2 separate regions of the Homo sapiens genome follow, and region 1 is linked to region 2. A link means that fine-mapping ties the variant in region 2 to the plasma level of a protein whose gene starts in the linked region. Region 2 holds a variant in brackets. A gene starts in the other region. All regions are shown on their reverse strands.

Region 1 (2,858 bases), not on the chromosome of region 2:
CTAGACTGTAGTAACACTGTGCCATCACACTCACCTCGCTTCCTTCCTCCGCCCACATCCCTAGCAGGCACGTGGGGCTGTCCCTCTTCCTTCACCCCCACAGGACAGCGCCACAGCCGCAGAGCCCCCATCCCGAGCCCGCGCCTCTCTGGTCGCGCCGTGTCATTCTGCCCACCCATTGGGCGACCTGGGCACGAGCACCGCGACCTCCCGCTCCGCGCAGCCCTCCAGCACCGTGGCCCCAGCACACCTGCAGAGCAGCCAGGCGCAGGAACCGAAACCCGCCGGGTGGTGGGCGGGAAGGGAAAGGTAGATGCCCAAGTGAAGGCGCTCATCTTTTTTCCTACGTGAACAGAAGTTGATTCTTAACTTCAAGTGAGAAATGACAGGGAGAAAAAGTATGCAATCACTACCAGAAAAGGTGAGAGGCCAGTGTTGTTTCCCAGCGAAGGGACGGGGTGAGATTCAAACCCATCGTCCGGCCAGGGGAGTCCGCCCCCAGAGCACCGAGAAGCTGGGGTGCGTGGGCGGAGAGAGAGCAGGGTGCGCCCGACAGCCCTGCGCCAGGTTGTCCCCAAACTCAACACTTCCTCTCTCCCTTCTGGAGTCACTTTCCCTTCCGGAATATGCAAGCTCTGGGTGGCCCAGCCCTGCCGCCAGACTCAGTTTCCAAGTGCGGGGGAAGGAGATGGGCGCTCTCAGCCGCGATCCCCTGGGAAGGTGGCCACTCACCTGCGCTCTGAAATAGAAGAACAGGGCGACGCTGCAGACAACCTGGCCCAGCCCCAGCCCCAGGAGGGCCACGAACATGGAGCGGGAGGCGGCAGGGGGCTGGTGCGGCGCAGGCGGCGGCGGGGCGTGCAGGGGGCCCTCGTGCGGGGCTCCGGGGCCGCCGCCCATCTCCTCCGAGCCACGCAGGTACTTGGTGTAGTCTCTGCTGGCGCGGCGCATGGCGCTCGGCCCTCTCGCTTCGGAGCTCTCCTCCCTCTCCCGCTCCCTCCCCTTCTTGTCTGCGGCCAACTCCGGAGGCTGCGGCGGAGCCTCGACGTGGGGCGCCGACTTGGAGCCCGGCTTTGGGTCCTGGGGCGCGCGGGCGAGCGGGCAGGGCGCCCGGCAGCCCCAACTCTTATAAACCGCTTGGAGAGCCCTGGCCTCGGGAGCCAATCAGCCCCAGGCGAGGCTGCCTCTTCCACTCCCACCTCTGGCTCCCCTTCCTTCCTTTCGCCCTCCCTCTCTCTCAATCTCTGTCACTGAAGGGCCTCCTTCATGGGGGCCCTCCAAGGAGGAGGCTGGGGGCTACTCCAGTGGTTCCAGACTCCCCTTGCCATCCTCAGCTGTCTTTCTGGAGGTCCAAGAGATGGGTTAAAGAAGACGCAGAGGACACCTTTGCTAAAGGATAAGGATTGCACCTCAGACATTCCTCCTGCATCCATTCTAGTTTGGTAGAGAAGGGACTTCACATCCTGGAGTCTCGGTTTCCTCCTTAGGATTTAGAAAGTTAAATTTGATGATCTCTGAAGACCCTTCCTGTCCAACCTCTCCCCCCAAAGTGCTTCCAAATATAGTTTCTCAAAGTATTTTGGAAGACTTCGAAAATTTCACAATCCCCTTCCCAAATCCCTATTTCTGCATCTTGAAGGTGACATTGAGCGAGGCAGGTCTTGAATGTGGCAGTAGAGAGCCTATAGACACCAACTCTGACTTTATAAAGATGAAAACAGTGCAGAGAAAAGGGTAAAGGGGCGTGTAGCCAGAAGCAAGCATCCGAGGAGGGCTCACCCAACAGTCAGGAAAGAGATGTAACACGAAGCTGATGATACAGTTAAATGTTAGTTTCATTGCTAAAGAAACCTTGCTAGGGCTTTTTAAAAACCTCTATTCAGAACTGTGGCTCTTAGTGAGAAAACAAAAATATTAACATTGCTCACAAATTCTGATACTTCTTCAGAAGGAAGTTGCTGACCAATTTAAACACCCATGAAACTTAGGATGTTTCCACTTTTTTATTAATACAGTTAGCCCACAGTATCCATGGGTTCCACATCTGTGGATGCAATGAACCACAGATCAAAAATATTTGAAAAAAAAAAAAAGGATGGCTGTGTCTGGACTAACATCTGTAGACTTTTTTTCTTGTGATCATTTCCTAAATGATACACAACTAGTTACATAGCATTTACATTCTATTAAGTATTATAAATAATCTAAAGATAATTTCAAGTGTACAAGAGGATGTGTGTAGGTTAAATGCAAATACTATGCCATGATATGTTAAGAAACTTGAACATCCATGGATTTTGGTATTTGCGGGGAGGGGTTTGGTGGTGTCCTGGAACCAGTCTTCCATGGATATCAGGGGACTACTGTGCCTTTTTATTTTGCATCCTCTTTCTGCCTAATTCGCTAATGAGTATTTCTCTAGGCAAGATTTGTGACAAATGACAGGTCTCTGAGTTATTAAAGCATGTGTTCTAAATTGAACACTTAGACCTCAGTAAATGTTGAGGAAGAGTGACCAGGTTGAATTTTTTTTAAAGGCAGCCATACAAAGAAAATGATCTGTTCAAATTCAAAAATGCCTTTAGCATTTATATGTGTATCAATATATAGGTTGGTGGAGAAGGGACAAAAAATTTTCAGACTCAAACATAGAAACAATTGACGTTAATTCTACTCCTTGTAGTCTTTGACCTCTTCCCACTTTTTGTTTGTTAACTTTGGGAAGTAGGTTTATTGTCTCCTCCTCCCCCTCCTCCTCCTCCTCTTCTTCCTCATTCTCTCCCTGCTCCTTGACTCAGGAAATAATTCCATATTTCTTCTTTCTTATAAATATTGATTGGGATCAAAGATTTTTAAAA
Region 2 (2,909 bases):
AGGGGGTGATGTTTGAAATGAGATCTGAGTGACGAGGCGCCAGCCCTGCAAGGACCTGGGGGAGGGCATTCCAGGTGCAGGGAAAAGCAGGTGCAAAGGCCATGAGGCAGGGAAGAGAACTTGGCATGTTCACAAAATAGAAAGAAGGCCTCTGGTTACCAATAACAATGAATAGTCCTTGGCCAGGGCTGCAGATCACCTGAGGTCAGGAGTTCGAGACCAGCCTGGCTAACATGGTGAAACCCCATCTCTATTAAAAATACAAAAAATTAGCCAGGCACGGTGGCAGGCACCTGTAATCCTAGATACTTGGGAGGCTGAGGCAGGAGAATTGCTTGAATCTGGAAGGCAGAGGTTGCGGTGAGCCGAGGTCCCACAAATGCACTCCAGCCTGGGCGACAGAGTGAGACTCCATCTCAAAAAACAAACACAAAAACAAAAAACAAACAAAAAAATGGATAGTTCTCACGACCCAGTAGAACATAAAATTTGAACCGAAGGCTGCCTGCCTTGAACACCCACTGAAAATGGAAGTGGCTTCCCTTGTTAACCCTTACTTCTGGTTAACCCTGGTCCTGGTTAATCCTTATTTCCCTCACTTCTGCCTCTTCCTATGCTGTCTTCATGTCTCCCTTCACTGCTGTGTTCCAAGCATGTTCCACAGCTGAGCCCAAGAAGCCAAAGGCCTCTTTTTAGATACAAGTTCTTACTCAACTTTGAGGCAGAGTATGTTTCCCTAGACAGAGGTTTGTCTGTTTCTGACATGGCATGCCCTGGGGCCCATAGCACCGCTTTGACCCAGGCTCACAGATTGGGCAAGTCCAAACTGGGGTTGCAAACACATCACTCATTTATTCATTTATCAATAGTTATTAGCATCACCATCAATAGAAACAAGTATAACAAATGACAGTTAATGAGGGGAAGTTAGCAAGGAAGATATTTTTTGAGGGCACCTAATTGGGACCTGAGGCTCAGGCAACATTTTTAGAAGGAACTGATGTATAAATGGGAGTCTGAAAGATAAGTAGGAATTGGCTAGTAGAGGGACTCATGAGAAAGAAGAGAACTGTGGATTCTGGAAACTGCCTGTGCAAAGGCCCCAAGGTGGAAGAGAGCATGGGGTATTTGGGGACTTTTATATGGATATAGAGGTGTTTTTAAAGGAGGGTGTATGTGTAAGAATCTGGCTGGGAATCCTCTAGCCTGTAGGGTCCAGATTCTGCAGGGCCTTTTTCACCACGGTTTTTGTGTGCGGATTTTTTCTGCACACTTCAAAGTTCTTTATTAGAGAGTCAGGCCAATCTCAGAGGTAAATTATTGCAGAGAAGGAACAAAGATTGGAGAGATGATTAACCTCGACTTTCTCTTGTGCTTTTCCTGCATATGGAAAGTGATCTCTACAGACACCTCTTCCTTTCTGAACCTTGCTTTCCTCCCTCGGTTTCTGTCCCTGCCTACACATC[C/T]CCATTTTTCCAACATTGCACCCAGCTACCCTCCTGACTATCTTTGGAAAATTCTGCTCCTTCTGCCGTGTGGGGTTTAAGCTCCGGAGCTCAGGCTTGGGGTAGACAGACTCCAGCTGTGGTTAAGAGAATGAATTGGAGGAAGACAACATGGAGGGAGAGAGACCAGTTAGGGGACATTGTGATTATCTGGGATGGCAATCATGGCACAGTGGGTGCAGAGAGTGGCCATGTTTGAGAGATTTTCAAGAGGTCTTTTGGAAGGTGTGTGGCTTGGACCTATGGATGGACCTACAATGGACATAGGCACTGAAAAAAGAAACACAGGAGGCAAGATGGGGAGGCAGAGTGGGGCTGGGGGAAGTCACAGTGTGGAACTTGGAGTCACACAACTTCATAACCTTGAACGAGTCACTTAACCCCTCTGAGCTGCCTTTCCTTCCTCTGTAAAGTGGGGAGACAAGCAATGCCTGTCTCATAGAGTGGTGGTGAGAATTAAATGAGTAGTGGTTAGCACAGCGATTGGCACACGCAAGCTATCACTGTTAAATCCATTCCAGGGGCTGCTTTCCATAAACACGTGGTTACTATAGATCTGAAGTCTTGGAGGAAGACCTGGCTGAAGGCAAAGATGTGAGATTTATTTCCCTGAGTCATTGCTCCCACCCACAGGGTAAATGTTTGCAGTATTAATATTGAAGTGTTTAAGAGAATCAACTCTTCACCGAACAGCTTCAGATACTTTAGAGGAACTTGTTTGCATTCAAACAATTAATATGCCAATTGCAAACCAAGCCACTTCACTCATCAGAGCCACCCAGGGACCAGTTGGTGGTAACATTTCAGTGTTTAGTGTGAGTTACAGTATGTGTTGTGGAACAATAAAACTGTAGTTAGTTTTTTTTTTCGAATGCATTTCACTTTTCCTCTTTCAGATTTTCAGACTGGTGTTCCTTCCCAGTAAGTAGCCTGTATTCATGGAGTGTCTGGAATCACTTTGAATTCACTTGTATTTTGGTTCTAATGGCAGCCACAGGGCTCTAAGTGGCCAGCTGTCCTGAGAAGGGCGTGCTAATTGCATTGAGGGGCAGGTTCATCTGTAATCTGTGAGTCTATTTGAGGTGGCCTGGGGTGGTGGCTGATTCGAATTAAGATAATAAACATATAATTTCTTCCAACCAGCCTCCGGGCTCTACATTTCTCCCATCTGAGGAGTCTAGTTGAACAAGAAAAAGTCCTGTGACTAGCAAAGGAAGAGATGAATGGGTAAGAAGATGGACCAGCTGTAAACTAAATAGTCATACCAGGTATTTGCGCTGTGCACAATACAGCCCCAAAACTTAGTGGCATAGGACAGCAACTTATTAGGCTGGGCGGGTTTTCTGCCGGTTTCCTCTGGGTTCATCATATGGTTCTCTTCAGTTGGGACCTGGATTCAGCTGG

Alleles and levels. Positions count from the first base shown, and alleles are read on the strand shown. Strength reflects both the effect of a copy and how common the allele is.
As copies of T replace C in region 2, the plasma level of the protein whose gene starts at base 1,103 in region 1 goes down (weak association).

The links. A credible set is the group of variants that fine-mapping cannot tell apart. PIP is the chance, under the fine-mapping model, that this variant and not a neighbour inherited with it causes the effect. Protein levels are from antibody-based Olink assays in UK Biobank. Linkage for the fine-mapping came from a reference panel and not from the study's own genotypes, which makes the PIPs less certain.
Region 1: TNFSF11 starts here. The variant in region 2 is the best candidate, but not a certain one, in a credible set for the plasma level of the TNFSF11 protein (UK Biobank, PIP 0.59).

Annotation. Positions count from the first base shown.
Region 1 is chr13:42,572,397-42,575,254 of GRCh38, reverse strand. It overlaps TNFSF11 (TNF superfamily member 11), which reads right to left and starts at 1,103. Exons shown (of 5, transcript NM_003701.4): 1 at 733-1,103. The coding sequence starts at 951. RefSeq lists an enhancer at 506-705 and a silencer at 796-1,165.
Region 2 is chr20:40,512,434-40,515,342 of GRCh38, reverse strand. No RefSeq gene overlaps it. Among named protein-coding and RNA genes, the nearest start is that of MAFB, 180 kb to the left of the region's middle. The variant C/T (reference allele first, on the strand shown) is at 1,467.